Homo sapiens: one gene and its partners. The protein of the gene in region 5 interacts with the protein of the main gene of each other region in a pairwise test. Each region holds a gene or a part of one and is shown on either strand. Other genes may lie near its edges. The genes, in order: SUPT5H, EXOSC7, UBASH3A, UTP14A, SNRNP48 and LUC7L2.

Region 1 (5,242 bases), on a different chromosome or scaffold from region 5:
GTCTGTTGACAGCGACTGTGGTGATAATGCGATGGATGCTTCCAGAACAGCACCCTACACCAGACCCCCAACTGAAGCAATTTCATTCTCACGGGAGCCCCATCCAGAGGCACTCCTGATGTTATTTCCCTTCCACAGCTGACACTGTGGTTGACAGAGATGAGGGTGCCCTCCCAAGGTCACTCCACCCAGGCAGTCTTTCTCCAGGCCCAAGGGTAACCACAATCACTACTGAGGTTGGGGATGGAGAGGAGGCCGCTTTGCCCCCGCCCCGCCATGCTATGCCTCCTCCTTCAAAGGGACCAGCCTGAGGCTAGGAGCAGAGAATGCTGGGTGGGCCCCACAAACCCCTCCAATGCCCCAGACACCCAGCATCATCCCTCACACACACCAGCACACACCAGAACCTGGGGAACCCTGGACTCACCGTGACGGCGTGTTGGGGTTGTTGGGGTCCCAGGCCCCACTCTGGGCAGGAGTGCGGCTGCCATCATGCAGGGGCGTCTGTGAGCCGTAGTGTGGGGTGCGGCTACCTGGAATGGGGGAAATGAGTGTGTCTGTCCTGTCCCTTCTCTAGGTCCCCCTAGCCCCTCTTCCCTGTCCCCTGCGGGCACTCACCATCCTGGAGGGGTGTCTGTGAGCCGTACATGGGTGTTCGGGAGCCAGAGCCATACATGGGCGTCTGGGAGCCATACATGGGCGTCCTCCCATAGGTCGAGGTCATGCCGCCCGGGCGCCGTGAGCCCCTGGGGACGCAGAGAACAAATGGGGTGAGCAGACCCCTCTCACTGCCTAGCAAGCCCCACCCTGGCCCTCCCCAGGCCCCGCCCGTACACCGTGGTGAGCCGCTGACGGTCCACAGAGATGGTCTGGCAGGTGGAGTGCAGCTCCACACGGGCCGTGGACTCTGTGGCATCTTTCACCACACCGATGTAGCCTGCAGGGGGACAGGAGGTCAGGCTGGGCAGGCTCTCCTTCACCATGCCCCTCCCCAGGCCTCCACAGGCCTCGCAGGTCACCTTTGTAGGGCCCCTGGGAGATGCGCACGGTCTGGCCGATGAGTTCGTTGTCCCTCCGGCCCCGGCCCCTGCTCATGCCACCACTGCCGCCACCTGGGCTACCAAAGCCGCCACGCTGACCTGGGGATTGGGGAGAATGTCACTGGTCCCCCACGGCTGTGCCCACAGCAAGGGCACCATCAGAACGTCCCCTTCACTTGCTTGACTCCTCCCTACTTGGGTTAAGAGCCTCCTCTGCCCACCCCTGCCCCATGGCTTTCCTATGGAAGCCCTGACCATTCTGGGCTGTCACTGTGGCGTCTACCCTCCTGTGGGTGGTGAACCCCTAATAGCAGTGCCCAGCCCAGCACAGGCACTCAGTGAGTGTAGGCTGAACAACCAAGTTCCTTCCAGCCCCTTCTACCCACCACATCCCCTGACCCTGAACCCCTCTCACCTCCAGCACTGGGGTGCATGGGGCTGCTGATCCGGGGACTCATAGGCGCAAAGCCACCCACGGTGAAGTTGGTCACATCACGGGGCTAGGATAGAAGCAAGGAGTGAACTGGCAGGCAGGGGATGGGGGAACCACAAACCACAGGAACTCATCATCCCACGTGCAGGGCCCTGAGGAGACCACCCAGCCACCCACACCCCAGGCCTGAATTCCTCTGTGACAGCTGGTCCTGCACACTTTCCTACAAGCCCCACCTCAGGGCCTTTGCACTTGCTGTTCCCCCAAAATGCTCACTCTCCATCCCTTCATTCAGGTCTCTGCTCCAATACTGCCTCCCACTGAGGCCTTTTTTACCCTCCTCTGTCTAAAACAGCAGCCCTGGTCACTCCCTGTCTCCTGAGCCCATTCTGTTTTCTTCACAGCGCTTGCTATCACCTCAAGCTGTACGATGGGTTTATCTGTCTGTCCACCTCTAGAGTATCAGCTCTGTGAGAGCAGAGTATTTTTGTCTTGTTCACCACTGGTTCTCCAGTGTCTGGCACCTAACAGGTGCTCAGTAAAATGAAATGAATAAATAACTTAAAATAACTTGGTGAACAGCTCAGAATCCCAAATAAACCTTCTCACTCTTTGCCAAGGACCTGACAATGACACTGCTCTCCTAATCCCTCACAAGCCCAATCTTATCACTTCTGGGGCCAGAGGAGGCTTGGAGAGCTGAGCCAGGTACCCAACGCACAGGGTCCTGCCATGCCCACCTCACCTTTGAGCCCCCAGCCAGCACCAGGTGGCGGGTCTTGCAGACAAACATGCCCCCGTTCTCCACCAGTTTCTTGCAATGTAGGAAGGCGAAGCTTCGGAAGAGATGGCGAATCTCCCCTTCTCGGCCCTAGCCGGGGAGAGAAGGGTCACTCTCTTGACCATGTCCCCCTCACCCCCAACCAACCAAATTCTTTCAGATGCAGCTCAAAAGCAGGAACTTGTACTCACTGAGTGGGGGCCATCAATGACCTTAACGATGTCTTTCACATGGATGTTGTTCTGCTCTGAGTCCAAGGCCACAGCAAAGCGGTTGTCCTTCTTCCGGGTCACAGCCTGATGTCTGACAGTCACCACCTTCCCGTACATGTTCAGCACCTACAGAGGGAGAGCAGGGAGGCTGTGGGGGTGAGAATGGGAAGGGGAGACACGGGGCAGGGGTTCCCTAAAGTGGGATAATCCTTCCTTGTGGGAGACAGTCCCAAGCTCCACAAGGCATCTCAATTCCCTGGCTGCGGGGCAGGCAGGCAGAGTGCCACCCTTTAGGTACTGGGTCAACCAAAAATGTTCCCAGTCATTCTAAAACACCCTTTGGAAGGAGACTCCACCCCCGATTGGGCAACAGGGACCTGAGAGATGGAAGAAGGGGCTGATAGCAACATTGTTCATCCATCATTCTGTGTCAGGCCCCGTAAGATTTCACTGAAGCCTCAAAACTTCCTCTGAGGTGGATTCTGTCATGATTTCCATCTTACAGAGGGAAACTCAGGCTCAGAGAGGGTGAGTCACTAGCCCAGGGTCAGACAGCACAGGAGCAACAAAGCCAAGATGTGGATGTGGAGTCCAGGATCCTAAGTACTGTGCTCCATGACTCCCACATCCATGAGGAAGGAGCAAAGGCAGGAGGGCACATGTGGCACTCCATCCTTGAGCGAGCAACAGCCACCAGGGTACAGATCTAACCTCAGGGAATCATTCACTATGAACAAAGTAGACGCTGCTCTCGTTTCCATTTTATAGGGTGTGAAAACAGGCAAGGGGAGGGATCAATGACTTGCCATGTGCCCACTATCAGCCATTCAGATGTAAGTGACAGAGCCAGATCTGCAACCCAGAGCAGTCTGGGGGCTCTGCCACCTCCCAGGATGAGGGGTTGAGGGACAGGAAGCCTCCTAAAAGCAAGTCCCCGCCACAGAGCACAACACACACACCTGGAAGGTCTCCCGTTCTAGTCGCACGATGACACCCACAGTCTGGGGATCCAGCTGCACCAGCTCGCCCCATTCATGCTGGCCCCCAACATCCACACCTGATGCTGTCTCTGAGCAGAGCTGCAGGTCCCGGGGGAGCACCTTCAGCTGCCAGGGATGGTGAAAGGGGTGAGGCCCAGTCCAGGTGGCTCGCCTACCTGGGTCTCCTCTTGGCACGTGCACCCTTCCCCGACCCTTCTATCCACCTACCTCATGCATGGTGAGGTCAGAGAACAGGATAACGAAATTCTCCTCCACCCGCACAATGAGGCCTGTGTCGCCCTCGAATCGGCCAGCAATCACCTTCACGTGGTCCCCCATCTTGAAGTATTTTCTAAGTTCCTGGGCTGGGAACTCCAACATGTCCTGGGGGATTGGGTGTGGGGACAACAAACAGGTGAAGGGAGACCACCACAACCTGCCTGCCCCTCCTGTCTTCAGAATCTACGCATGTTCTCAAAAACCCCACTTCAGGCTCTTACCACCCACCCCAGACTACCTTAGTCCACCTGGACGACCCCTCAGACTGCCCCAGAAACAGCTGACCCCAGACACAGGACACCAACCTGGACAACCTTTACCCCAGCCCGCCCTCAAGACACACGATGCCTACCTATACCCACACAGAGAGCCTGCCCCTCAGACACAGGACCCCCGACTGGACAGCTCCTCAGCCCCACCCGGAGACAGCCTCACCCCACACATCACACTGGGCCTGCACAACCCCTCAGACATACACCAGACACAGACAAACACACACCCCGCTCTAAGCAAACAAAGTCAAGCCTCAGATTACTCCTTGGTTAATCACACTCTCAACCCAGTACTACCCAGATATCTTGCTTTTCAGAAACAAAAGATAGACCAAGTCACTCTCCAGAGACAGACACCACCAGGCAGGCCTGCTGCCCACCGACCCTGAGCTGCACTCAGACAGAGCCTCTCAGGCACCTGAGAATGCTAGAAGGGCCTCAACTTACCCTCCTGGAAACCAGGTGTCACCAGGCACACCACCGCCTCGACAGCCACATACAGTCAGATGTGCCTGAACACTCCAACCCCTGCCCGAGAACACCGGGCACCCACCTTGAGGTCCTCATGCTTGGGCATGATGGTGATCTTGTTGCCATCCACGCTGAGGATCTTGCCCTGCAGGTTGATGAGCTCACCCTCACAGACCTCCACGTTGTCCCCAGGTTGGAAGTTGTGCTCCCGCTCCTTCCCTGCAGGGGCAGTCGTAGGGCTGACTCGGGGGTTGCCACCATGGGCCGCCCCTGCTCCTTGGCCCAGGTTATAGAGGGGGATCAAATACCTGTGCTCTCAGTCACCACCTCCAGGTCAATGCCCTCTGGCTGGTCCTCAAACTTTTCCAGCTCAGAGAGTGTTGGCTTCACACCCTCCGTGATCTAAGCCCCCAGCGGTGAGGGGAAGAGAAGGAAATGGACCGAGGTCAGTGCAACAGCCCAGCTGAGTGGGCTGAGTGGGTCCTAGGGGAATAATTCTCCTAGGGAACACTCCTAACTTGAGGAGTGGGACAGAACCAGATAACCCACAGCCCAGGGCATCACCTGCAGGAGAACACTCACACCACCCCCATTACCAACACCCCTCTGGGACCCTCACCACAGCAGACATGGCGAAGCTCTTGAACAGAAAGCCCTTCCGGCTGTAACGGTTCCCCTCAAAGATGAGGAAGTCACCATCAGAGGCAACATCACCCCCCAGGGACCTGGAATTTGATGGGGGAGAGAAGATTAGAAGGGAGAGTCAAGAAGAAA
Region 2 (5,242 bases), on a different chromosome or scaffold from region 5:
ATTAAGCATCGAGTGTCTATGTGACCAGCTCCCAGTAAAAATCTTGGGTGCTGAGTCTCTAATGGGCTTTCCTGGGCAGAAATGTCACAAATAAGTTACTGCATTTTCACTGCTGTAATAAACCTTAGCTGTGAGTATCACTATATGCTAAGTCTAGCAAATCTCTGAATGTGGAGGTGGTCTTGGGGATCTTGATACAGGGTCAACATTATATACCTACACCCAGCATGAGCCCACAGAGATCCTTACCCACTTCAAGAAGGCCTGGCTTCCAGAAGCAAAGTAATTGATAGAAGACGGGACCTGGCCAGCAACCAAATAAAAAGCCCCGACCCCTAGAATGTGGAGCTAATAATACTTATTGAACTTATTGACAAAATAAGGAGAAATAACACTTATTGAAAGCCCACTGGAAGTCAGTCACTGTGCTAGGTACTCACTCTATTCATTTCCTCTTCATCACCATGGTATTATTTATTATCCTCATTTTTTAGATGAAGAAATTTGGCCACAGTGAGACTGAGTAACCAGCCTGAGATCACAAAGCTGGCCAGAGAAGGAAGTGACATTCTGGCCCAAGGCTGGCTGCAGACACTGCAGAGCCCTCTCTCTTCTCAGCACCCATACTGCCTGCCTAGCTGCCACTTCCTCAGCCTGTCAGGCTGCTTGGCTGACCCTAGGCTTCATCTGTCAAGCAAATCATGAACAGTTTTCTGCAGAACTAGAGTAGGAAGAGAAACAGCACATTTTAGACCAAATGATCCTTACTGTGTATATTTTTCAAAGCACCATAACACAATCATTTCATTTGACCCTCATCACAATCATGTGCTAGGCTGCCTGGCAAATGTCCTCCTTTATCGGACAGGGAAAACAAGGCCAGCAATAGCCAGGTGGTTAAGACTAGGGCAGGACTCAAGCCAAGAGTCCTGACTATGTACCTGGCACATAGGAGGAGGTCAGCAAATGCCTGCTGGATGGCTGAATGATAAGTATAAAAGTGGGTTCAACAGCAAACCAGAGGTTCATTTTCTGAATCTTCATCTTTAAAATCATTTATCTTTAGAAATATCTGCATAGACAGTACTGACCAGTCAACAAAGAACTCCAAGTAGCCTTCATTTGGTTTCTCCAGCTTCGGCGTCCCCATTTCTGCTTTCACTCCCACCAAGATGTCTGTGTGACCCTGCAGACACATGCAAGAAGAGTCCTCACTCAGAGTATGCAGCCAGGTACTCCACCACCTCCCTCCTCTTCTGGACATACACCCCTGGGGGACTCTTTTAGGAGCAGTGCTAAGACTTGGAAAGTGGTCTTTGGAGGAGGTGAGCAGTCTTTTCAGATCTGGATAGACCCCCCCTCCCTGAGTTTGGCTCGGATCTTCGATTTCCCCAAGAGCAATTTGCATTCCAAAAGCCAGACAGCGTCAGCAGCTCATTCCTTAGGGCCTACTCATTTCTCCACCTGGGCTTGAACCATGGTCACAGTACTCACCAGCTTGACCCTGGCGGACCCACTAGTGTTGGACACCACATCAGTTTCCACTTCGACACATCGGTAGTCCTCACAGCCACGGCCATCCACACGGAGGTCTTCCTAGGTGTTAACAACCACAGTCCTATAGTCACCCCAGATCAACAATAACTCCTAAACGGACTCACCCATTTTCCCCCTAGAGAAGATATATGCAGAATATCTCTTTTCCTCTTAGTGGATCATCTAAAATTCTGTCCTTGTAGCTAACAACAACATTACTATTTTACATATGAGGAAATGGAGACTCAGAGAAGTTGAGCGACTTGTCCAAGGTCCTACAGCTAGTGAAAACAAAGCTAGTTTTCCATGCCAGTTGTGTCTGATTGCAAAATCTATACTACATACCACTATATAGAATATGCACACAAAAACAAGATCTGAACAAGAGACAAAATAAGCCACCTCTCTCTAAATCTGCAATTCTTAAATTGCACCAAGAAGTATATGTTGTCAGAGCTACAGAGTACAATCATCTCAACTGAAGCCCTCCTACCCCTAAAACTCAACAAGATCTACTGTGTAAATAGTGAAAGACACCTAATCTTCTAAAGAGGCAGTCTCTAGAACAGGGTCAACAAACTAAGGTCCCTTGTTTTTGTAAATAAGTTTTACTGGAACATAGCCATGCCCACTTGTTTAGGTAATGTCTATGATTGTTTCTGCACTACAAAAGCAGAGCTGAGTGGTTGGGCCAGAGATATGACCCATAAGGCCCCAAATCTTTACTATCCAGTCCTTTACAGGAAGTTTGCTGACTCTTTTGGCAGAAGATGGTTTTCAGGGTGGTCTACGCGCTGCCTGTTCCTTCTGCCCATTTATTTACTCCTTCAATTACTTGTATCAGTACAACTCATTGGTATCTTTTATGCTATGGTTATAATCCACTACTATCATTAGTTATTTTGCTGCTCAAAGTGTTCCAAATTTGGCCACTGGGGGCTTCTTTGGGTTAGTTTTTGTGCTCTTTCAACATGCCTCCAACTTTTTGAGTAATTATCTACTTTCTGCAACACAAGATATCTATCCTCTTGTGTCTTCTCTGCCCAGCCCTAGGGATCAAGCCTTTCTCCAAGGAGCCCTGGTTGCTTTTATTGGGGAATGGTACTTAAAACCAGGAACTAGGCTCTAAGTTCATTGCTGTTGGAGTATTATTTCTTCCAGAACTTCTCAGCAGACAGAGCTAGAAAATACAGTTATGTATACTAACCACCCCCACCACACACACACAAATCTGTTTAATTCTGTATCTATCTACATATCTATTAAAAAGCCAAGAGTTCATACTGATAGATCAATTCCAATCTAACATCACATGGTTCATTCTAACCTTCCTCTGTTTCTTATTTGTAACTTCTTTCTCAAAGAAGGAGAAAGCTGGCTCTTATTATCTAACATGTATTTCTGTATTTGTTCAATCTTAGTATACACAGTTTCTGAACTTCTAACCCATACCCCTGTGAGAAACAAATTTACTAATAGCACACAGTATTTGTGTAAAGTTCTGTCTTTAGCCTCAGAGTATCCAGGCAAAATACTGTTTTCCAGTTACTTCAGTTCTTTTCTTCTACGTGCCCTTCAGTGTGGTTACATTACTCACTTGTAACACAGGCTCATTTGTAACTTGTAACTTTTTTTTTAGACTATGGCTCTGTCGCCCAGGCTGGAGTGCAGTGTGGCACAGCTCACTGCAACCTCCGCCACCTGCGTTCAAGCGCTTCTCCCGCCTCAGCCTCTGAAGTAGCTGGAATTACAGGCACATCACCATGCCTGGCTAATTTTCATTTGTAAATTTTTGTTTTCCATTTTGGGTTCCCCCACATCATGGTTACTTTTAATTACTTATTTACTTTCTGAGTTTGTGAGCTATCACTATAGTTCTGAGAGAAAACTCAGAAAAGTATGCTCAGAGAAATGTCACTCTCCTCCGTATTATGCTATTTTCATGCCCCTTTCTTCCCATTCACCCTAGGTTTCTCTTCAGTTTCAGGTTTATCTTTCTTGTATTTTCTCTGCACAAATAAGCAAATACATGAATTTTTTAATATCTCCTTGTTTCTTATATGAAGGGTGGAATACTATAGATACTCTTACTTTTTTTTTTTTTTTTAACACTTAACTATATATATGCAGGAAATCATTCCACGTTGGCTCATGGAGCTCCTTCTCATTCTTTGTAAACATTTTTCAAAAGCAGTTTTTTTCAGAAAAAGAATCATTAGCTTAATCAGATTCTCCAAGGAGTTGATGCTTCCCAGAAACATAAAAAATAAAATAAAACACTGCTCTAAAGTATGTGACTGACAGTTTATCTTTAAACTGCCTGGCTAACTGCATATGTGACTGACTTTTTTGAGAAATTAAACAGAAAAAAGCAAAACACTGCAGCACCACACAGTACCAATGATCACCCTCTGCCATACTTGCTTCAGGTCTTTCACCCGTTTAACTTTTCAATGACAGAAAATAAACATCACAAATCAGGTGGAAGGTCCTGTGCAGCCCATCCTTCCCCCAGCACCTTTCCTCCCTGGAAGATATTGAGAGGTGACAGCGTGCTGGCAGCCCTCACAGCCCTCGCTTGCTCTCGGCACCTCCTCTGCCTGGGCTCCCACTTTGGCAGCACTTGAGGAGCCCTTCAGCCCGCCGCTGCACTGCGGGAGCCCCTTTCTGGGCTGGCCAAGGTGGGAGCCGGCTCCCTCAGCTTGCTGGGAGGTGTGGAGGGAGAGGCGTGGGTGGGAACCAGGGCTGCGGGCAGTGCTTGCGGGCCAGCGCGAGTTCTGGGTGGGCATGGGCTCAGCGGGTGGGTGTGGGCTAGGCGGGCCCCATACTCTGGAGCAGCCAGCTGGCCCCAGGCAGTGAGGGGCTTAGCACCTGGGCCAGCAGCTGCTGTGCTCAATTTCTTGCTGGGCCTTAGCTGCCTTCCCACGGGGCAGGGCTCCGGATCTGCAGCCTGCCATGCGGGAGCCTCCCCGCCCTCCCACCCCCACCCATGGGTGCTCCTGTGTGGCCCCAACCTCCCCAAGGAGCGCTGCCCCCTGCTCCACGGCGCCCAGTCCCATCGACCACCCAAGGGCTGAGGAATGCGGGTGCATGGCAGGGGACTGGCAGGCAGCTCCACCTGCGGCCCCAGTGCAGGATCCACTGGTTGAAGCCAGCCGGGCTCCTGAGTCTGATGGGGACTTGGAGAACCTCTATGTCTAGCTAAGAGATTGTAAATACACCAATCAGCACTCTGTATCTAGCTACTCTGGTGGGGACTTGGAGAACCTTTGTGTCTACACTCTGTATCTAGCTAATCTACTGGGGAGGTGGAGAACCTTTGTGTCTAGCTCAGGGATTGTAAACGCACCAATCAGCACCCTGTCTAACAGACCACTCGGCTCTCTGTAAAATGGACCAATCAGCAGAATGTGGGTGGGGCCAGATAAGAGAATAAAAGCAAGCTGCCAGAGCCAGCAGTGGCAACCCGCTTGGGTCCCCTTCCACACTGTGGAAGCTTTGTTCTTTCGCTCTTTGCAATAAATCTTGCTACTGCTCACTCTTTGGGTCCACACTGCCTTTATGAGCTGTAACACTCACCGCGAAGGTCTGCAGCTTCACTCCTGAAGCCAGCGAGACCACGAACCCACCTCGGGAGGAATGAACAACTCCAGGTGTGCCGCCTTAAGAGCTGTAACACTCACCATGAAGGTCTGCAGCTTCACTC
Region 3 (5,242 bases), on a different chromosome or scaffold from region 5:
ACCTCCTCCCAACCAATCGCATCTGCACAGGCCCTATTCCCAAGTGAGGTCACATTCCCAAGTTCCTGGTGGACAAACATTTTTAGGGGACACCGCTCTACACACCACAGGACCTTGGGCAGGCCCTTCACCCTTTGCAGCCTCAGTCTTCCTGTTTTTAAGATGCTGCCAATGAGGTTCACTGGGGGAGGGCCTGGGTGTGAAAGAGCCATCATTTGATAAAGGATACTAATCCACAAAGACCGGGGGCGACTTTCTAATTATTCAGCAGATTCGATCTCCAGACTCACAAGCTGCCATCCAAGTGGAAGCCCAGGATTCAGGGATGGATTTACAGGCCAGGATCTGTGCTTCATACATGTCTGAGCACAGACAGACACGCTCCCAGAGAGAGAAAGTGGGGAGCCCTCCCACCAAGGCACTGCGGCCTCGTCAGATTTTAGAGTCGGCAAATCTCAGCAATACTGAGTGCCTTCTGTGTCCCGGGAACTATGGCAGGATGGGCCACAGACTCAGGCAACATTGTTCTTGAAGAGTGAGAGCCCTCATTGTTTTGTAGAGAAAGAAAAAGAGACAGAGAGAGTGGACATGACTTGATTAAGGTCATGCCACTCATCAGGGACACAGAAAAAAATCACATCTTCTGACGTCAAGTCCACAATCCTTTCCACTAAACCCCAATGGTAGCCTTGGTCTCCAGGCCAGGGCTGGTGTTTGGAGAGAAGGGAATTTTGATGATTCTGAATATGAGTCTAAATAATCTTTCCCTGGAGAGGCCAAGGAGAGAGCACTAAGCTCATACTGAAAATACAGAAATAAGTCACGTAGGACTTGTGTGTCTCCCACTCAAGGCTGGGGTGGGGAGGCCCTGACTCCCTGTGTGCACCAGCCTCCAACCCCGTCACAGTCACCCACTCAGGCTTGATGCTTGGCACACCCTTCTGGGGCACTTTCCCAGGCTGTTGGCATATAGCTAAGCATTTTAAAAACCACATAATGAGAACAAGGCTATTCCCGCCTAAAGAGAAGACCAAAGCTGGTCCGGAAGCTTTCTAATGGCTTACATTTTTGAAGGATGTAGTGGCTCACGAAGGAGGCTCTAGTTAAATTGCTCAGCCTCAGGTTAGGGCCATGTCCAGGCACCTGGCTGAAAATCCAGAAGCGGGAAACGGAAGTGCCTGGGTGAGGACAGGTGCAGCCACTGAGCCCGGAAGAAAGCCCACCCAGCCATCCCACCATTGCTGCTGGGCTCTGCTCCCCTGGAACCCACCCACTGCATCCATGTGCCGGGGGCTAGTCCCTGCCACAGAGGGCTCACTCACTGTGAATCCAGCCCTGTGTTTGCAACTGGCCAGGGCTGCCCACCTGCTAAGAGAGATGCTTCCGTGGCGAAGGTCATGGCGAATTCCCGGATGACGTCTGCGGGGCTGCCACTGACGAAGAAGCCGAGGTAGCTGATGGAGGAGTGGAGAGCCAGAGGCACGGCCGTGGGGAAGGAGCCCAGGAGCCTGTCTCCAGCTCTCTTCAGCGCCTCGTACAGGCATTCCACCTTCTGGTCTTCACACTAAGGGGACAGAGACAGAGCCTGTGTTTCCACACCTCTCATCAGAAGTCATCTATTAATTTAATTAATAACAATCAGGCAGCAATTAAAGTGAGATTCTTTTCTGTTCAAAGCGCTGTAACATAATTTATTGCGTCCCTTTGTGTCTGGGGTTATGGATTTGTTCTATACCTGGACCTCGGTTTTTTCAAATATTTCAGGTAAGTTTCTTTGCAGGTTGGAGTCTCCTTTAGGTGCCCAGGTTGGAAATCCCCTGGTCGTTGAACTGCATCCCCTCCCTCCATGGCACGTGCTCATCACCTGCCAGGCCCTTTCCTCAGTCCCATGGCACACTGCTTTGCTCAGGTTTGCATGATTTGGCTTCTGGAGGTTTCTAGCAGACTCCAAGGCTGCCCAGGCACTGCTCAGAGCCTGTAGTGAGCGGGACTCAGCTGCACTTCCAGCTGCGGGGCCACCCTCTCTTCCACGGCTGAGCACTGAGTCGGGTTCCACAGGGACTCCTCTAAGGCACTGAGGCTCTGCCTGCCTCCAACCCTCTCCTCCTCTTTTGCCTTCACCAGCAGTCTCTCCCCTGTGCGTCTCCTGCACTGGGAATTCTGCCTTGGGGTCTGCTCCCTGGAGGACCTGAGCCTGCACAGCCCCTGGCCCGGCCTCCCTGATGCCCCCTGAGTGGCTGCAGGACCCTCTTTCTGATGCAGCTCCCACCCCTGAGGCCGCAGGCTCTCTGTCACCTGGAGAATCCCTCAGGCCCACGGAGCCCGACAGGTGCTGGCCCGACAGCCTTGCCCACGGGGCTCCCACCCCCATCCTCCAGCCAGACGCAGCCTCTCCTGACATCTGGGCTCGGTGTTGCCTACCGCCCTGGGGAGGCTGCTTCCTGGGCTTGAAAACCTTCCCAGTGCCATTGGCCACATCGGACCACAGGGGAAACCCAGACACCACACCCTCCTGGCGGGAGTTGGCCTGATCCCTTCTCTTCCCAGCACCGGGCTGCCCTCGGAATTTCCCACAGTGCTTCTTACAAGCCCAAGTATGAGGCCAGATCACAGTGTTTAATGCAGCTTCCGTCTCCCCATGGACAGGCCGGCCTGACATTCCTCCCTGTCTGTTTTCTCTGCAACCCTCAACGGCACTCAACACAAAACCACCCAGTGAACACATGTCCATTCCTGAATCCGTCTCACATTGTGTTTCTTGGCCTCAGATATGTAATTTTCAAGAATAGTCATGTTATAAGTGTAGCTGTGATCAATATCACACTTCGGAAGATTAGTGTTTTCATTTTACAGCATCAAGGTACACAGTGAGTCTCCGTTACACTCTTCTGCCTGTGAGGGGAGCTCCACTAACCACGGCCAGGCCAGAACTGGGGTGGGGGACTGGGAGGAGCTAACGACAGAGGGAGGTGTGTGAGTGTGTTTGTGTCTGCATATGTCTATATGTGTGTGTGTCTGTGTGTGTGTCTGCATATGCGTATGTCTATGTGTGTCTGTGTGTCTGCGTATGTCTATATGTGTGTCTGTGTGTATGCATGTGTGTATCTGTGTGCATATGTGTGCATGTGGTGCTTATGTGTGTGTCTGTATGTGTGCATTTGTCTATGTATGTGCATGTATGTGCATGTCTGTGTTTGTGCATGTGTGTCTATCTAATGTGTGTCTCTGTGTGTGTCTGTGTGTGTCTATGTGCATGTATCTGTGTATTCCTGTGTGTGTATATCTGTGTGTATCTGTTTGCATGTGTACCTATGTACATGTAGTGTGTATGTGTGTCTATCTGTGTGTGTCTGTGTATGTCTGTATCCATGTATGCATGTATATATGTGTGTGTCTGTGTGTCTATATCTATGTATGTCTGTATGCAGGTATGTGTGTGTATCTGTGTGTGCTGTGTACGTCTCTGTGTCTATCTGTGTGTGTCTGTGTGTATCTGTGTCTCTGTGTGTGTCTGTATGCATGTATGTGTGTGTATCTGTGTGTGCCGTGTGTACGTCTCCATGTCTGTGTGTGTCTGTGTGTCTATATCTATGTATGTCTGTATGCATGTATGTGTGTGTATCTGTGTGTGCCGTGTGTACGTCTCTGTGTCTATCTGTGTGTGTCTGTGTGTCTATATCTATGTATGTCTGTATGCATGTATGTGTGTGTATCTGTGTGCATGTGTAAGTCTCTGTGTCAATCTGTGTGTGTCTATGTGTGTGAGCTATGTGTGTGTCTCTGTGTCTATCTGTGTGTGTGTGTGTGTGCTTGCACCTCAGTGGGCTGGGGAAGGAGTGGGGGGCCAAGGCCTGCTCTGATTTCTGAGCTGTGTCACATGGCTTGGGCTGCCTTGCCTTTCCCCGTTGGCTCCAGAGGGTGAACCAGAAGGGAGTCAGCTTGTCACAAGTACCATTGATGTCGATGTAGGGGGAAAACTCTCTCGATTTTTCTGGGGCTTTTCCAGGTTTAGTCTTGTGCTCTGGGGATCCCTGCAAGTCTCGGGCAATCCGGGGTGGTGGTTGGAGGCTTTGGAAGGTACTGCTTCTCCTGGGACATCTTCCAGAAATCTTTTCCCTTCAGAGGTTTGCATTCCTCCTTTCCATCCAGCACCGAGGGGCCTGGTGTTGGAATGGAGGGTTCCTTGGGCCCTGATGGAATTCCTTGAAATGGGTGGAACAAATCAGTTTGCCAACAGCAGAGTTGGGGCCAGGCCGCGGTAGCAGAAGTGGGTGTGCCCTTCCTTAAGCCCCTCTGGCGGAGCTGAGTAGAGCAGTGGCTGTCTGTCTCTCCCTTCTCCTTCTTTTCTCCTGAGCAGCTCCCACATTCTTCTTGTCTTCCCGGTGCCCCTGTAGAGCTGCCTGCTGGGCCATTGTGTTTTGCTGTGGAGCTACCCACTGGGCCATTTTTTTTCTGAATCAGACGGCTGGTCCCTGAGACAGGGAAAAGTTCTGCATTTGTGGGTAGCCAACAATCACCCATCCTTGAGTTGACTTACCACACATTTTGGAAGCACAAACTCTGTTTTAGGGGCTGTGCTAGTTTCTGGGGGTGCAAAGATGAGTGAGGTATCTGCCTTCCCTTGAGGGACTCGGTCTGGTGAGGGATGCGGTGCTGCACCAGACACATGGCCCGTATGATACAAAAGTGCCACTAGACACATGAACGAGAAAATGGGCAGCAACTCCTTTTGCCTGGGGAGCTGGAGAAGACTCAAAAAGGGGAGAGGATAAATGAGTTGGGTTCTGAAGGATTAATAGGAGTTGACCAGATGAAGGCAAAGAGGAAAATAAAGGACAGCTCATATGAAGGTGCCAGCTAATGATGCAGTTCTGGACTATCCCATTTAAATAAGTCAACTTTGTCCCATCATGGCCTAGTTAGCACAGAAAAATGCCTCCAGCTGCCGTGAGCATTGAAGGCACACTGGGTTGACTCACCGTGAAGAAGTCACAGAGTGTCACGTGTGGGAAGACCTCATGAGCTCTGTTCTTTGCACACTGGCGCTTGCTCTCTCTCCAGAACTCTTGAAGTTTTTCCAGCAGGGGCCCCGTTGGACAGAGGAAAAGGGCATACTCCTGGGGGATGGGGTCGTCTAGGGAAGGGTCATTGCAATGATCATGCAGCCTGCAACAGAGAGCAAGCCGGCATCACCCACTGTCACAACAAAAAGAGTTTTCCCCTTTGAGGATACACAACAGAA
Region 4 (5,242 bases), on a different chromosome or scaffold from region 5:
TCAGCCCCCCTAGTAGCTGGGATTACAGGCACACACCACCATGCCCCGCTAATTTTTGTATTTTTAGTAGAGATGGGGTTTCGCCATGTTGGCCAGGATGGTCTCAAACTCCTGACCTCAGGTGATCCACCTGCCTCGGCCTCCCAAAGTGCTGGGATTACAGGCGTGAGCCACCACACCCGGCCCCATCTCGTTTTTAATAACAAACTTGGCATTTTCCTGCTATCTCCAAGATTACACTGTCATTTGGAAAAAGCAAGGTGGAGGACAGTGTGTAGTAGCATGCTACCCTTCTTTTTATTTAAAAAGGAGGTAAACATGAATATAGAAATAAAACTCTAAGACAACAACAACAGCAAACTTATGCAAGTGGTTACTTCTGGGTGAGTATGGGGGTAAAAATGATCAGATGGGGCACGGGTGGAATCAAACTTTTCACTACATATCTTCTATGCTTTTTTATTTTTGAATCCTACAAATTGTATTACCTCTGATTTTTTTTTTCTAAAGTCTCCCTTCATCCTGCAGCCACACTTTAAACCTGATCTCTTTTTCATGTAGAAAAGGAAGCCTCCTAGAAAGAGAATGGTAGTGACTTCAGCAAAAACATCAGAAACAGCTTATCCCCATAATAAGCAACTACTCGCTCAATTTCTAGCTATTGTGGCAAGCAATGTTTACTTTGATTAGCTTTAATTAGCTCAACTTCCCAACGCCTAAGAAACTACCATTCTTGGGTTTTTGGAAAGTAAAGAGGAGAAGCACAAAGAGGGCATCTATTTAAGACTAATCAGCCCATTATAGACTCCATACCAATGGTGTATTGGAAAAGTAGGCTAGCTGTTCTAAAGCAGTTATTCGGACTAAAAACCGGACTTCAGGGACCAACATAGGATTTCCAACTTCTAATTTTGCCAAGAGCATAACTACCATTTCACCCCCAATCCCATCATTTACTACCACCATCATTTCATAGAAGAAAAGATATTTCAACACCATTAAAATAGAATAACCTCATAATAAAAAAGAACTGGCAACATTACACCCACCAAACAAACATACTTAGAATTATCCTTTTGCTTCAGACACAAACTTTGTTAGGGGTCAGTGTTTGGGAAACCCAGCTCTAAAACATCAACCCCTGCCCTGCAGCTCAGAGTCATAGTAAGTTACCTGCTGAAGTTCTAGTCATTGCCAGCAACACATTATATTTTAATGCGGTATTCCTGTACAAGCAAAGTTTGGCTTCTGTTGTTCACATATCCTCACTAAGGCATCATTAATGTTATCGAGTTCCTGATTTCCCTAGGATCAGAATGTGGCTTTAAATGCTTTTTAAAAACTGGGGTAAAAGAAAGAAAACATTATTATGTTCCTGCTATACGGGCAATCACATGGTTTAACACAAAAACATGGAAATAGCAAGTACTGTATACTACAAGCAGATGAAAAGTGACACAGAGACCGGGCGCATTGGCTCATGCCCGTAATCACAAAACTTTTGGGAGACTGAGGTGGGCGGATCATTTGAGGTCAGGAGTTTGAGATCAGCCTGGCCAACATGGTGAAACCCCATCTCTACTAAAAATCCAAAAAAAAAAAAATTAGCTGGGCGTGTTGGTGCACGCCAGTAATCCCAGCTACTTGGGAGGCTGAGGCAGGAGAATTGCTTGAACCCAGGAGGCAGAGGTTGCAGTGAGCTGAGATCGTGCCACTGCACTCCAGCCTGGGCGACAGAGCAAGACCCTGTCTCAAGAAAAAAAAAAAAAAAGTGATCACAGAGCTATTGTGACTGGCTATCACATGACTGACAATGACGATGGGCAACCCCTTCTTTCTGAGCACTAAGCTAAAATGACTTATGCTGGGGTTTAGCTTAACATGTCCAATCAAATCAATTGCAGGCTCTGAAATCTCCAACTTATAAAATCTCACCTTTCAGTTTCATTTTGTTGTACTCACCTTCCAGCCACTGAGCACATGTTCAATGGGAGCAATGGCTGGCTCCTCTTTCTCCAGGGGAAAAACCAGCTGCTCTGCCTGCCGGTTCTTCAGGACGACAGGGTCCCATTTGGAGAGGACTTGTGCGGTTTTATTGAATGCTACTTCTCTGTGGATCTGAAGCAGGCAAGGCATGTAAACGGAAAGAGCCACAAGATTAAAGCATCAAACCCAAAGGACTAACAAGAAATTAGGAAGCAACATTTCTTAGCCCAAGAAAGAATCAGGATGCTAGAATCAGGATGAAAGAATCAGGATGCTAGTCCTCTTGCTTCTCAGGACTGCAATTTCTCCTAGATTATTATTATTATTTAGATGGAGTTTCACTCGTGTTGCCCAGGCTGGAGAGCAATGGTGCAATCTCAGCTCACTGCAACCTCCACGTCCTGGTTCAAGGGATTCTCCTGCCTCAGCCTCCCAAGTAGCTGGGATTACACCACACCCGGCTAATTTTGTATTTTTAGTAGAGACGGGGTTTCACCATGTTGGACAGGCTGGTCTCGAACTCCTGACCTCAGGTGATCCGCCTACCTCAGCCTCCCAAAGTGCTGGGATTACAGACGTGAGCCACCGCGCCTGGCACTCCTAGATTATTTTTAATCTTATCCATAGTGGGGAAATCACAACTCCCCCTTCTCCCATTTTTCAGGTCTTTCCCTTCTTTCTATTACCCTATTTTCCCTTGTCAATTCAATTTCTTTCCCTTAATAGACCACCTTCTCTGTAGCTTACCCGTTCAATCTCTTCTTTGTTCAGAGGTAACTCCACTGTCTTCTTTGATTTGACTCTACTCAGTTGCTTTTTCACAGTGGCCAAAGAAGATGAAGTTTTAACAGGCTCAAGCAGATCTGCAAGGACCAGCTTTTCTCCTGATCCTGTGGAAAGGTCAAACTTTCTGGTCAGACCAAGAAGTGAGACAAGATCTCAATATAATGTAGGGAGAAGCCTCAGTAGAAAATGCCAGTAGATGGCAAATGTGCAGAGAAGCAAGAATAATTCTCTTACTTCAATTGCCTATTTCTAGCCATGCCAACACTATCACTCTTCTACATTCATCCCCAAACGTGTTAGGGGGTAGAAGATAGGGGAAAATATTTATTCAAAACTCATTTGCTTTTCTCCTGGTGCTTCTACTCTTGCCCCATTGCAATTCATTCTTCACATAACAGCCAAAAATAAAAACAGCCAAAGTGATCTTTTTGCTGTTGTTGTTGTTTGTTTTGAGACAGGGTCTCACTCTGTCACTTAGGCTGGAGAGCAGTGGTGCCATCTCTGCCTCCCAGGCTCAGGCAATCCTCCCAAGTAGCTGGCACTATAGGCGCGTGCCACCACGCGTGGTTAATTTTTTTAATTTTTTTTTTGTAGAGATGGGGTTTTGCCATGTTGCCCAGGCCAGCCTCAAATGGCTGGGCTGAAGCAGTCCGCCCACCTCGGCCTCCCAAAGTGCTGGAGATTACAGGTGTAAACCACTGTATCCAGCCCAAAATTATCTTTCGAAAATATAAACCACAGCATGTCATGACCCTGCTGAAAATCCTCCAGTGACTCCCCATTATACTTTGAATCTCATCTACCTAAAGGACATGGTCCTATGAGATCTAATCCCCATCTGCCTCTCTAACCTCATATCAACCCCCACCCTCTAGAATGCTTTTGTCACAGGGGCCTCTTTCCTATTCTTCAACATGTTGTGCATGTTTCTACCTTAGAGCCTTTGTGCTAGCTGTTCCTTGGCCTGAAATGCTTTCCCCAATCTTTGCATGGTTGACTTGACTTGTCATTCAGATCTCGGCTTCAATTTTGCCTCTTCAGGGGCCTTTCATGACCAACCGATCTAAAGTAGCCACTTAGTTGCTTTACTGCATCATCCTCTCTTATTGTCTCCCTTCATTAGAATGTAAACCCCATGAGCTCACATCTTATTCGCTACTTTAACCTTGGTATCTACAACAGTTCCTGATACTGCTACCTAGTAGAAACACAATAAATATCCACTGAATAAGTACGCTTGGAATACATTGTTATTTGCCCTAGGAGGCTACACCAGTGATTACTACAAATGCAAGACCCATTCTAGCTGCCTAAGTTGTGAACAGGGTGAAAAAGATTTGGCATCTAGACTCAGTATTAGGATAAAATCCCATGGCTGCCGCTTATTAGAGCATGTATTCTGAACAGGGGCAATTTTACCACCCCGCCACCCCAGGGTGAAAATTGGTTCTTTCTGGGAGAGTATGAAAAAAATCTTAGATATTACAATGTTTTGTGTCCCTCCAAGGCTCAACTCTGTCCAACAAACTCTTATTCCTTAGGACTTGATTTCCTGGGGAAGGGGCACAGGGGGAGGGATACAATGAGGAAAAAAATGTCTTGAGGCCGCGCACGGTGGCTCACGCCTGTAATCCCAGCACTTTGAGAGGCTGCGGCGGGTGGATCACGAGGTCAGGAGATCCAGACCATCCTGGCTAACACGGTGAAACCCCGTCTCTACTAAAAATACAAAAAACTAGCCAGGCGCGGTGGCGGGCACCTGTAGTCCCAGATACTCGGGAGGCTGAGGAAGGAGAATGGCGTGAACCTGGGAGGCGGAGTTTGCAGTGAGCCAAGATCGCACCACTGCACTCCAGCCTGGGCGATAGAGTGAGACTCTGTCTCAAAAAAAAAAAAAAAAAAAAAGGCTTGAAAGGCTCCTCTCAGGGGAGCAATAAAAAAGCAAAGGTTGAGAAATACTGTACTAGGCAAAGGCCCTTGAATAAGTAATGTGACCTCTCTGAGCTCTGGCTGAAGAGAATATTTGCCTGTCTCCTAACTCAAAGCATTGTTAAGAGAACTGAAATAAAAATGAAATTGTACAAATATGAATTATGACTAAGTTACTAAGAGGCAGCTGTCTTTATTCATGTCCATCTATCCTATAAGTATCTCATCAAACTCTGTAGGATACCTTGACCACAGCCTTCTAGGCTTTCTTTGAGAGATGGAAGAAACTGAAGGGCATCTGACTACACTTCTTCACCCACTCTCCCAGGTATTTATGGTATGAGTCATTAACCACATCAAAAACAGTTCCTAGGGGGGGTGAGGTGAACACAATGCCCTTGGAACTCCACAGGTTTCATGCATGGGTATCTTCCTTTGTTCAACTTACCTTCAGAACTGACATTGAACTCTGACACCTTCAGACTAGCCTCAGACCTCTCAGCCAATTTCCGCCTGAAATTAGGCAAAACGATATAATAGG
Region 5 (5,242 bases):
TTAAAGAGTTTCTCCCTGGGAACCTCAGCAGAGAGTAGGTTAGAAGTTTTAAGCATAAGCTTTTAGGAAATTGAAAGAAAACTTCATCCATCAAAAACATAGACATAGGCCAGACACGGTGGCTCATGCCTGTCATCCCAGCACTTTGGGAGGCCGAGGCAGGTGGATCATCTGAGGTCAGAAGTTCAAGACCACCCTGGCCAACATGGCGAAACCCTGTCTTTACTAAAAAATGCAAAAATTAGCCGGGCATGGTGGCAAGCACCTGTAATCCCAGCTACTCAGGAGACCGAGGCAGGAAGAATTGCTTGAACCCAGGAGGCGGAGGTTTCATTGAGCCAAGATTGCACCATTGCACTCCAGCCTGGGCAACAGAGCGAGACTCCATCTCAAAAAAAAAAACACACATAGACAAACGAGTTAATAAAAGTTTAAATTTCTAATGAATGTAGATATGACATCTAGCCAAAACCTGAACAGCTTCTCTTGTAAGGATTTCTGCATTGTCTTCTTTGAACCTTCTGTAGGTAGCTTTCTCTGGACAACTTACCTTTTTTTCCTCATTCTTTTTTCTAGCTGAATTATATTTACCAGGCTGTAGTCATGGTTGGTTTTCTCCCTCATTGAAATTGAGGATCTTTACCAAATACTGTTCTAAGCCAGTATCTGGACTTGATTTCTCAGAGTTGCTCTATGGCTTCAGAAGAAAGACCATCTTATCCTTAGTTGTCTATATTACATGGGTTCTCTACAACAGCCAGAAGCACATTTCTTGTATTTTTTGTTTTGAGGTTCCCACTTTTGTCCCTGTCAGGGAAATTCCAGGTTTTTTTCTTTGAGGGAGACAGTTGACTCTCATTTTATTTATTCGGAGAGATTACTGAGCTATGACTAGTCAAGCCTTTTTTGGCCTCTGCTATTGGTTCTGCTCATATCCCCTGGTAGTGTACCCATAAAAAAGTTGAGGTTTTTGGTTTTTGAAAGGGTTAATAATACTTAAAGGACTTTATTTGAGTCTTAAGTGGTTAGATTTACTGAATTTTAGAGTTGAAAGAGAACTTGGAGATCATCTAATCCAGTGTCTGCATTTTACAGATAAGAAAAACCCTGTCTGATAGAGACATGATAAAGTTCTAGTGTGTTTGTTCTAAAGGTTCTCCGTATTTTTATTTTTTAAAAGGTTATTTTTTTAAAGCTCTTTTATGAATTACATTTCTCTTTCACAACAAACTTGTGATAAGTTGAACGATATTTTCCCCTCCATAATAGGTGAAGAAACAGGCACACAAAAGTGAAGTAACTCACCTCTGCTAGATAATATCAAAGTGGATCCAGAACTAAGTTCTGAATTTTGACACAAACTCTGAACTGAGTTGTTTGATTTTCTGTTAGAAACCCTACATTTAGTAAAATTTGTGGACCAGGATTCTAGATATTGCTCAAATTTATTTATGATGTCTTTCATGATTAAGTGGAAGAATATCACAAACTTCATATCTCTGCATACTAATCGTGACTATCAGTGCTGTTCATTGTTTATTCTGCTTTGTGTAAACCTGTTTTAAAGAAATAAAAGTAGCTGCTTGGCCATATATTAATGATGATAACTGAGTTTTTGTTTCCTTATCTGTAATACAAAACTCTCATAGAGTTGTTGAGAGGAACAGAGATAATGGATGCTAAACAAGCCTTAGCTCCAAAAATTGGTAGCTTCTATGGTCTAAGTGAAAATTAATATACAGAAAGTAATATTAAGATAATGAAATGGATGAGTTTTATATATATGAGTAATTTAGAAAATGTTCTGCTTTTTAATTTTTATAATAGTAATAAGGGAGATTTGGACATTGAGCTTAGTTCTTTTCAAAAGCAAAGAATTACTTTGAATGAATAGTTAAGAGGAACTATTATATTATTTTGATAGTTAAGAGGAACTTTAATTTTGAATTCTTACACTATCTTAAATTAAGATTTAATTGTTAACCGTAACCTTTTTTTTTTTTTTTTTTGAGGCGGAATCTTGCTCTCTCGCCCAGGCTGGAGTTTAGTGGCACAATCTCTACTCACTGCAAGCTCTGCCACCTGGGTTCACGCCATTCTTCTGCCTCAGGTCCCGAGTAGCTGGGACTACAGGCACCTGCCACCACGCCTGGCTAATTTTCTTGTATTTTTTTAGTAGAGACGGGGTTTCACTGTGTTAGCCACGATGGTCTCGATCTCCTGACCTTGTGATCTGCCCACCTTGGCCTCCCAAAGTGCTGGGATTACAGGCGGGAGCCACCGCGCCTGGCCAACGGTAACTTTATATGATCTTCAACCTTCTTTAAAAATTTTTTTTGGCCACGTGTGGTGGCTCCCACTTGTAATCCCAGCACTTTGGGAGGCCCAGGTGGGCAGATCACCTGAGGCCAGGAGTTCAAGACCAGCCTGGCCAACATGGTGAAACCCTGTCTCTACTAAAAATACAAAAATTAGCCAGGCGCTATGGTGCGTGCCTGTAATCCCAGCTACTCAGGAGGCTGAGGCAGGAGAATCACTTGAACCTGGGAGATGGAGGTTGCAGTGAGCCAAGATGGCGCCACTGCACTCCAGTCTGGACGACAGGGTGAGACTCTGTCTCAAAAAAAGAAAAAAAAATTTTTTTTTATATCCTCTGTAGAGTTATGCAATTTCTCAACAGATTATTTTTGTGGCTCACTTATGTCTTAGACATTTTAAGATCTTTTCCCTCAGGACAGGACTTTCTTTAAATATCTTATTGATGTATTTACTTTTAAGGGAGAATGACTAACATGAAAAATTTTACATTTCTCCATCTAATTCGTATTTTGTTTGTTACACACTACAATGTAAGTTTTTTGACAAGGTTTTATATGTATGTTTTCATTTCATCTGTCATGTCAGGCCTAAACTCAGTGTACAGAATTCTCAATCTTAAACTTTATGAAAGCTCATACAGCTATTCAATCTATATACTTATTTTCAGATATAGTTACTTCGGTTAATTTTTTAACCAAGATATTTCAATCATAAACAATCATTTTATGTTTAGTGGTTTATCTTTTTCTTTCAATATTAAATATTCAGGTTGTATACTTCAGTATTGTGAAGTGTGTTTGAGTCATGGCCATGATATGAAGATCAGTGTACTATCAAAGAAACTTAAAAAGACAGCATAGGATGGGCTTTAGATCCAGTCTGTTCCTATCACTTGTGAGACTTTGGGCAAGTCATGTTACTTCTATGACACTTAATTTCTTTATCTGTAACGTTAAGGAATTGACTCTGAATGAATTCTCCCTAAAATTCTGAATTTGTATCTTTGTGACAACACCTACTAGTACTATTTAATGTTGAATGTTATATGTTTAAGATCCCCTTTGATGACAAAAGTAACAAGAATGAGAATTGGCATTATTAAAACAATAGATTAGAGTTTCAATTTGGGGTGACGAAAAAGTTCTAGAGATGGATAGAGGTTGCACAACGTGAATGCACTTCATGTCTCTGAACAGTACACTGAAAAAATGGTTAGAATGTTAAATTTTATGTTATATATATTTTGCCACAAAAAACCTGCAAAAACAGGCAGCCAAAGGGTCTTAGAGTTATTATAATTACAGCACATTCATATGTACCTTTAAATCATTTAAAAACATGCATTTTGAAAATTTACATTTTATGTAAATGTAAGTTTATTTAAGTATGTTTATCCTTTTTGTTGTCAGAAATATCTATGTTCCGAATGAATTGAATGCAGTTTGTTGCTTAACCTTTCCTGTACTTTTTCTTTTTCAGTAATTGGGGTGAGTATAAAGAGGAATTAGGAACCTGAATGTACTCCTTATTTAAAGATATGCAGTATCCTTTTTGCAAATGATATCCTTTTAAAAGTAAAATTTCTAAACTTTATCTTAATACCTGTCACATATTATAGTCTTGAATTGGAATTTTGGTTGAATTACAAGGAATTTAAGTATCAGTCTTCATCATAAAGAAATTTAAGATGAATAAATTGAAGAAAAGGCTAAAATAATTTAAGAAGGAAATTATATTTCTTTGTTTAAAAATAACAGGCAAAGGTTTATATGAAGCTTGTTTGTAATACATCATTATTTTCTAATCTGTGTTTTCCTCCCAAATTTTTATAGCCTAATTCAAAGGAATTAGGCTTATCAAAGCTGTTTTTATAATTTTGTATTATGAAATGCCTACTATAATTAGAATAAAATTGATTGACTTGAAAGGGAACCCTTTTTTCCCCATTAATTCAAAACCCTTTGACGAGTAAAAATGGCCATATATTGTTATGTATAGCCGTGTTAAACCATGGCCTCAGATTCACTGCAGCTCTCCTCTTAATATGTAGACAAGTAGTACCTCTTTTTTGTTGTAATGCTTAGTTCATAGTATGCTCTTATTTGAATTCTTTTTGCCTCTACCTAGGAACTTAATGAGGTTAGACTTTATCAAATATAAGTATCTGGAAAGAGCTACTGATTTTATGTTGTTCTATGAACCAGTTACTACTTTAGAATAAGTTAGCAAACAATAAAAGGATTCCTTTAGTAGCTCATGTTCTTTGTTTGCATTAGTGAGTAATGAAGTCTAGAAAGAATTGTTTTAAATTGCTTTTTTTACAGTTCCAATCATTTTTTTATTTGAGAAAATTTGAATCTCAAAACAAAAATTTTCTTCAATGTTTAATACATCATATCAAGGTATTGTATTTACTTTTTTTCACTAATGAGCAGATTTTAGAAAATTCTGTAACTACCGGGGGGCACTGCTATTAACTTTTTTCAATTAATTTGGTTAAGCCACTATGCTTCCTCCTCAGGAAATTAAAATGAGTTTAATTTAATCTGTGCTTTCCTGGCGTGAGGAGGTGTGGGATTTCTGCTACTTAATTATTTTGTGGCCCCTAGCTCTAAGTCCTTGCACAAGTGGGATATATTTTGAATATTGACCATCTAGCTTGATGTCTCATACAAAAAGATATTTTTTACACAGTTTTTAATATTTCCATAGTTTATTTTCAAAGGGACTGTAATGCATATTACTTATTAAAAGCATTTTTTCCCCCAACTTTGATGGGGAAAAGCATATCAACAGATACCTACTTTTGTAGATGGCTATAAAAATTGTTACCCAAAAGGCTTTCTTAGAGCAAATTGTCTCTTATGATTATTCCTGCCTGCCTCCATGGGATCTGTCTTTATATTGTTGGAGAGAATAGCAA
Region 6 (5,242 bases), on a different chromosome or scaffold from region 5:
AGTTTGAGACCAGCCTGGCCAACATGGCAAAACCTCATCTCTACTAAAAATACAAAAATTAGCAGGGCATGACAGTGCATGCCTGTCATCTCAGCCACTCGGGAAGCTAGGGTAATCGCCTGAACTCGAGAGGCGGAGGTTGCAGTGAGCCAAGATCAGGCCACTGCATTTCACGCCTGGGAGACAGAGACTCTGTCTCCAAAAAATAAAAAATAAAAATAAATAATAATAAAGGCAATAAGTGTGACAAACATTTGGGAAACACTGATCTAGAAGAGGGTTTCTCAAACTTTTAATGTGTATCAGAATCACCTGGAAGGTTTCTAAAAACATGGATTGCTGGGGCCCATATCCAGAATTTCTGACTCAGTAGGTGGGTCCAAGAATTTATATTTCTAACAATACGACGTGATGCTGAGGTGATGCTGAATTGCTGCTCCAAGGACCACACTTGGTTTAGAATAACTAAACCAGAATGGTGATCAACAAGCTTTTGTTAGAGTCAAATGGTAAATGTTTTCGGTTTGCGGGCCATATGACTCTGTTGCAACCATTCAGCTCTGCTGTCGTAAGCCAAAGCAGCCATAGACATCATGTATATGAATCGGCATGGATGTGTTCCAATAAAACTTTATTTACCAAAAGCAGGAGGCCATAGTGCCAGTCCCTGATCTAAAACATACCTTCAAGTAACTTTAACTATTAAACTATTAAAGTTACTTTAAGAGAAAAGTCTACCATTTAAACTAATACTAGAGCACAGTACAGAACAGAACAGCCAGGTATATTATAGATACTATCCAATAATTATCAGTTAACTCTAAAAGAGAAAACTGGGGTCTGCAGAAATCTAAGGTATTAAGATTAAAAACAAAAACCATTTACCATATTCAGGAGACAAGATTCAGCAAGGGCAGCTGGTTAAATTCCTTTCATGTTGAGTCAAATAAGTCAAACATCAGTTGTACATGGTTCACAACTATACTGGAACATATGGGTCAATACTGAGTGCTTTTTGGAAAGAAGTTTTAAAGATTCTTTTCTATGCTAATAGCAAAATATGACATTTATTCAGCTGAATGGACTTCATGTTACTTTCTGACGGCTTTGACTTCTCAAAGTCCTAAGTTATTCAGTTCAAACAAAAACATGGAGCTGCAGATGATTTCAGAGTTTTCACAAATTAATTTCTCTATATCCTCAATAATCTTGCAAAACTGAACAACTGACCTATTTTGGCCCTGCCTTCCAATATCTATTCTAGCAGCTGCTAGTGCATGAGAACCTAAACAAAAAGGAAACAGAATAGCTTTTCTGCAAGTTTTGAATTCACAAGATTCCCTCTTCACTCCCTCATTCTTTTTCCAGTAAGATGTTCCAACTTCCTTCACCTTCTTATAGTTTCTTAGTAGATTAAGTTATGCCAAACTGCTTGTTTCCTCAAGAACTCTACATACTAACAGCAGTAGGCTTTAAGAATTCAGTCCTTTTCAAGCACCTTTCTGGAATTCCATCTTTGGGGAGTATCTGCCTCATTTAACTAGTCTTGCCCACTTATTGACCTTTAGTTTTAAACCATCTGCCTGTCTTCTCAACCCTCCTGCTTGCTGAACTCACAGCAACTTTAAGCTTCAATGCTTTGTATGAACCACCTGTTACTGAAGAGTACCTGATTCACTAAACCTGACCTTGATCCATGACACCTCATGGCCATTGAATTCCTACTACCCATCTTGAACACGTTGAACACTACCATCTATCCTTATATGACAACATCCAACCTAAACGAAAATAAAAGAATTTACTTGCTCCTTATAGAACTGATGCAGAAATAGACAAAATGATTTTTCTTTGTTTTGCTTATATTTACCTGAAGTAAAAGAATGTCTCAGAAGCATATGCTTACTTGAGGAGAACTAAACAACTGTAGAGAATCCAGGAACGATGCAATGTTATATGAAGTGATACTTTTATTGTTTTCTGGGCTGCTGTGTAGATAGAAATATTATTCAGAGTTCAAAATGCAAAATGAGGAAAACTTTTCTTTTTTCATTGATTCACTATGCAGGTGCTTTCAGTGTTTTGGATATGCCTGAAACTCTGATAAAGTTAAATAGTTAACTGAAACGCAGAGAAACTACTGTTTAATCCTATAAAACTCCTTATATTAAAGAATTTACAAGCTCTAGACTAAGAAATATCCTGTTATTATTTAAAAAATGTCTGCGTATACATTAAAGGCTCCGCCTCCTTCACTTAAAATGAACAATCCAAGTGGAATAAAAGAATGGCTCACAACTGACCAAGAAATGAATATGGTTCATTATGTTAATGAGAAAAAATTAAGAGAAAATGTTTTCAATGTTGATGAAAAGTCAAGGAACACAGATTACAGTAAAGATGATTTTATAAATAAAATCCATTAAAGAACGCACTACTTCAAACTTTGATTCAGTAATTTTGCAGAAAGGCAGAAATGTCATACTATCTTACAGATTACACGGTTATGTACTACTAACCTTACATTAGCAACAAGTAAATGGCTTTCTTAACAGTATTTTCCTGGGTATGAGGATGAGTATCCTTTCAGTTTTATATCCCACAAACTATAACTACTGTACAACTGATCAGCAAAAATATTATGATTAATATGTTAACTGAGGAAGTATATCCTACAATTTAGAAAGATTAACATTTAAAATAGTTAAAATTATTGAAAGTTTTAACTTGCCCGAAACAGTCCCTAACCATAAGGGACAATTAATGATGCTATAAAATTCTATCTAACATTCCTAGTCTACTTGTTGTTTTGGAGGGCAGGCTGCCATTCCTGCCTATTTTAATCTTTCGAAGGTGGTCTCTGCTCCCATTTAAAGGTATAAGCAATTAAGAGATACAGAACCCTCAGAACTACCTTCTATAACTTACCTAATTTCTAAGCTTAAAATGTAATCTAGGCTGGGCATGGTGGATCACCCGAGGTCAGGAGTTCGAGACCATCCTGGCCAACATGGAGAAACCCCATCTCTACTAAAAATACAAAAATTAGCCAGACGTAGTGGCAGCCACCTGTAATCCCAGCTACTCGGGAGGCTGAGGCAGGAGAATCACTCGAACCCAGGAGGTGGAGGTTGTAGCAGTGAGCCGAGATCGTGCCACTGCACTCCAGCCTGGGCAACAGAGACCCTGTCTCAAAAAAAAAAAAAAAAAAAAAAAAAAAGGATGTAATCTAAATCCACACCCTCAATTTTATTTAATTCTTATTGCTTGCATCTTCCCAGACTTTCCTGGGATCAAGACTAGAGACTTATGACCAAACTGTGTTTGTTGGCAAAGGGGCTTTAGCTAAGGAACATCCTTGCAATTAATCCAACTGAGCAAAAATCACAGTCTGTGTGAGGGTACTGGGTTCTTCCAACTGTCACACAGACAATTCTCAAACTGTTTCTTGGATTTTCCTGTGCAACTCCTCCCTGCTTTCAAATAGAATGAATATGTTCAGGGAAAACAAATTATCCCTCTCCCCTCTGCTAACAACTAAAACAGAAAGATATTTATAAAACGTAATGAATCATAAACAAGATAAAATAAACTAGTAATTACTATCTACTTATAGCTCCTTTCTAAAAAAACTTAAAATATATTTATTTTTCAACATTTCTGAGTATAACATAGGAAATTATTTGGTTTCCCATATAACAAATTACAGATTTAACTTGAGGCAAAAAAGGTTAAGTGACTTACCCAAGGTTACAATTAGAGGTACAGCTGGGGCTAGAAACCAGGTCTCCTGAGTCTCAGCCCAGTGCTCTTTTCCTTAGCCCATGATGCCTTATCAGAAAAATCCAAATACAGTCAGACCCCCAGTTATATGGGTATGAGTTACACTGATTCACATATACAAACTTTATATAGTGTGACCAATGTTTCAACTCACGCGGTACCCTGCTTCCATTTATGCAGTATGCCAGGCATCGGCACGATTTTCAGTGGCACACAGGCGGTTGCCACCACCAGGGCCCTAGGCAAAATTGCAAAGAAGGCAGAGTTTGTCTTTGGCCCTCCCACCTCCCTTATGCATTTCTCTCCCACCTCCTGGCAGTCCCCCTGCCCAGCCTCCCGGCACCATCATGCTGCCCTCAGATTGTCTAAAGCCCCCAACTTCCACCACTCACCCAGGAATGTCCTTTCTTGAAGTGCCCAGTGATCCAAAATTACCTCTCCATTTCCCTGCTAACAAAATTCCTACTCCTAAGGATTCCAGTGAAGTTTAGGTAATCTAAATGATTAACTACTTTATGTAATTCAAGTTAAGGTATATTTAACTAACAGACTTAAATCTCCAATGAATTTTAAAAGGAACTAATTAAAAACTGTCAGGAAGGGGAGGGGGAAGAAACCTTGAGGGGGTGAGGAGGTAATGTTTTCCCAAAGCCCCAGGACTCTGTGCCACTTCAGATTCCTTCACAGACAGGACACTAAGAGTGGAGGGGGTCACTGCCACCTTGAACCCCACTTCCAAAAAAGAGAGTCGCTGCTTTATAGTCTCTGGAATTAAAAAAAAAAAAAAAAAAGGACAGAGTTGCCTTAAATACCCTCCTACCTACCTTTTCCATCTCTCTCCCACCTCCTGGATACCCATTTCCACCTCTTAGTGCCAAAGACACCCAACAGCGTTCCCATAGGCTGTTTGTGTGTCCAATACAAGGGTTCCCATTAAATGGTTTCAAATTACATGGTGTTATTCAGGGGACGTTTCCATGTTCCCCTATCCCTGGGTAACTTGAAGTTGACTGTATGCTAAAAAAGAACAATCCTAATTATTAAAAGTCCTGAATCATAAAATGATATATATAAACTCATTAAATGGTAAGAAAAAAAAGAATGTTCTGATTATTTTGCATATATAGAATTAATTTTGATATCTAAAAAAAACTCCACTCAATTATTTTTCCTTGAAAGTAGTATATTTTTTACTTCTAACCCAATACAGCAGTGAAAATCCAGTCATTTCAGCTAAACAATACTGTGGACTCGTAAATATGAGTTCGATCATAAATCCTCTAAGTCTGAAGGTTAAAAAAAAAAATCCAGTAACAGACACATAAAAAAATACACAAAGTGGATTTTAAGAAATCCATGTTTCTGCTGACTACACACACAGAAATATATATATTTAAATTTAGCTTTGCAATACTAGACGGGCTGCCTAATTCAGAAACTTATCAGGAGATGGTTTACC

Evidence for each region.
Region 1: the proteins of SNRNP48 (region 5) and SUPT5H interact in a two-hybrid assay, tested with the Homo sapiens proteins (one large-scale study listed by BioGRID).
Region 2: the proteins of SNRNP48 (region 5) and EXOSC7 interact in a two-hybrid assay, tested with the Homo sapiens proteins (one large-scale study listed by BioGRID).
Region 3: the proteins of SNRNP48 (region 5) and UBASH3A interact in binary tests that used the Homo sapiens proteins (3 or more experiments, as listed by UniProt).
Region 4: the proteins of SNRNP48 (region 5) and UTP14A interact in a two-hybrid assay, tested with the Homo sapiens proteins (one large-scale study listed by BioGRID).
Region 6: the proteins of SNRNP48 (region 5) and LUC7L2 interact in a two-hybrid assay, tested with the Homo sapiens proteins (one large-scale study listed by BioGRID).

Annotation. Positions count from the first base shown.
Region 1 is NC_000019.10:39,468,707-39,473,948, reverse strand, and holds part of SUPT5H (transcription elongation factor SPT5), read right to left. Parts: intron 5,194-5,242; coding exon 5,088-5,193; intron 4,871-5,087; coding exon 4,777-4,870; intron 4,688-4,776; coding exon 4,551-4,687; intron 3,831-4,550; coding exon 3,675-3,830; intron 3,573-3,674; coding exon 3,426-3,572; intron 2,593-3,425; coding exon 2,446-2,592; intron 2,345-2,445; coding exon 2,219-2,344; intron 1,541-2,218; coding exon 1,456-1,540; intron 1,140-1,455; coding exon 1,020-1,139; intron 938-1,019; coding exon 835-937; intron 747-834; coding exon 619-746; intron 534-618; coding exon 428-533; intron 1-427. UniProt on the Homo sapiens protein: Component of the DRB sensitivity-inducing factor complex (DSIF complex), which regulates mRNA processing and transcription elongation by RNA polymerase II.
Region 2 is NC_000003.12:44,985,494-44,990,735, reverse strand, and holds part of EXOSC7 (exosome complex component RRP42), read right to left. Parts: intron 1,597-5,242; coding exon 1,495-1,596; intron 1,187-1,494; coding exon 1,092-1,186; intron 1-1,091. UniProt on the Homo sapiens protein: Non-catalytic component of the RNA exosome complex which has 3'->5' exoribonuclease activity and participates in a multitude of cellular RNA processing and degradation events.
Region 3 is NC_000021.9:42,409,346-42,414,587, reverse strand, and holds part of UBASH3A (ubiquitin-associated and SH3 domain-containing protein A), read right to left. Parts: intron 5,167-5,242; coding exon 4,980-5,166; intron 1,565-4,979; coding exon 1,366-1,564; intron 1,179-1,365; coding exon 1,065-1,178; intron 1,030-1,064; exon of another isoform or gene 1-1,029. UniProt on the Homo sapiens protein: Interferes with CBL-mediated down-regulation and degradation of receptor-type tyrosine kinases. Promotes accumulation of activated target receptors, such as T-cell receptors, EGFR and PDGFRB, on the cell surface.
Region 4 is NC_000023.11:129,908,642-129,913,883, reverse strand, and holds part of UTP14A (U3 small nucleolar RNA-associated protein 14 homolog A), read right to left. Parts: intron 5,215-5,242; coding exon 5,150-5,214; intron 2,877-5,149; coding exon 2,734-2,876; intron 2,119-2,733; coding exon 1,963-2,118; intron 1,306-1,962; exon of another isoform or gene 1,193-1,305; coding exon of another isoform or gene 1,174-1,192; intron 575-1,173; coding exon of another isoform or gene 489-574; intron 1-488. UniProt on the Homo sapiens protein: May be required for ribosome biogenesis.
Region 5 is NC_000006.12:7,595,875-7,601,116, forward strand, and holds part of SNRNP48 (U11/U12 small nuclear ribonucleoprotein 48 kDa protein), read left to right. Parts: intron 1-3,798; coding exon of another isoform or gene 3,799-3,827; exon of another isoform or gene 3,828-3,985; intron 3,986-5,242. UniProt on the Homo sapiens protein: Likely involved in U12-type 5' splice site recognition.
Region 6 is NC_000007.14:139,361,955-139,367,196, reverse strand, and holds part of LUC7L2 (putative RNA-binding protein Luc7-like 2), read right to left. Parts: intron 1-5,242. UniProt on the Homo sapiens protein: May bind to RNA via its Arg/Ser-rich domain.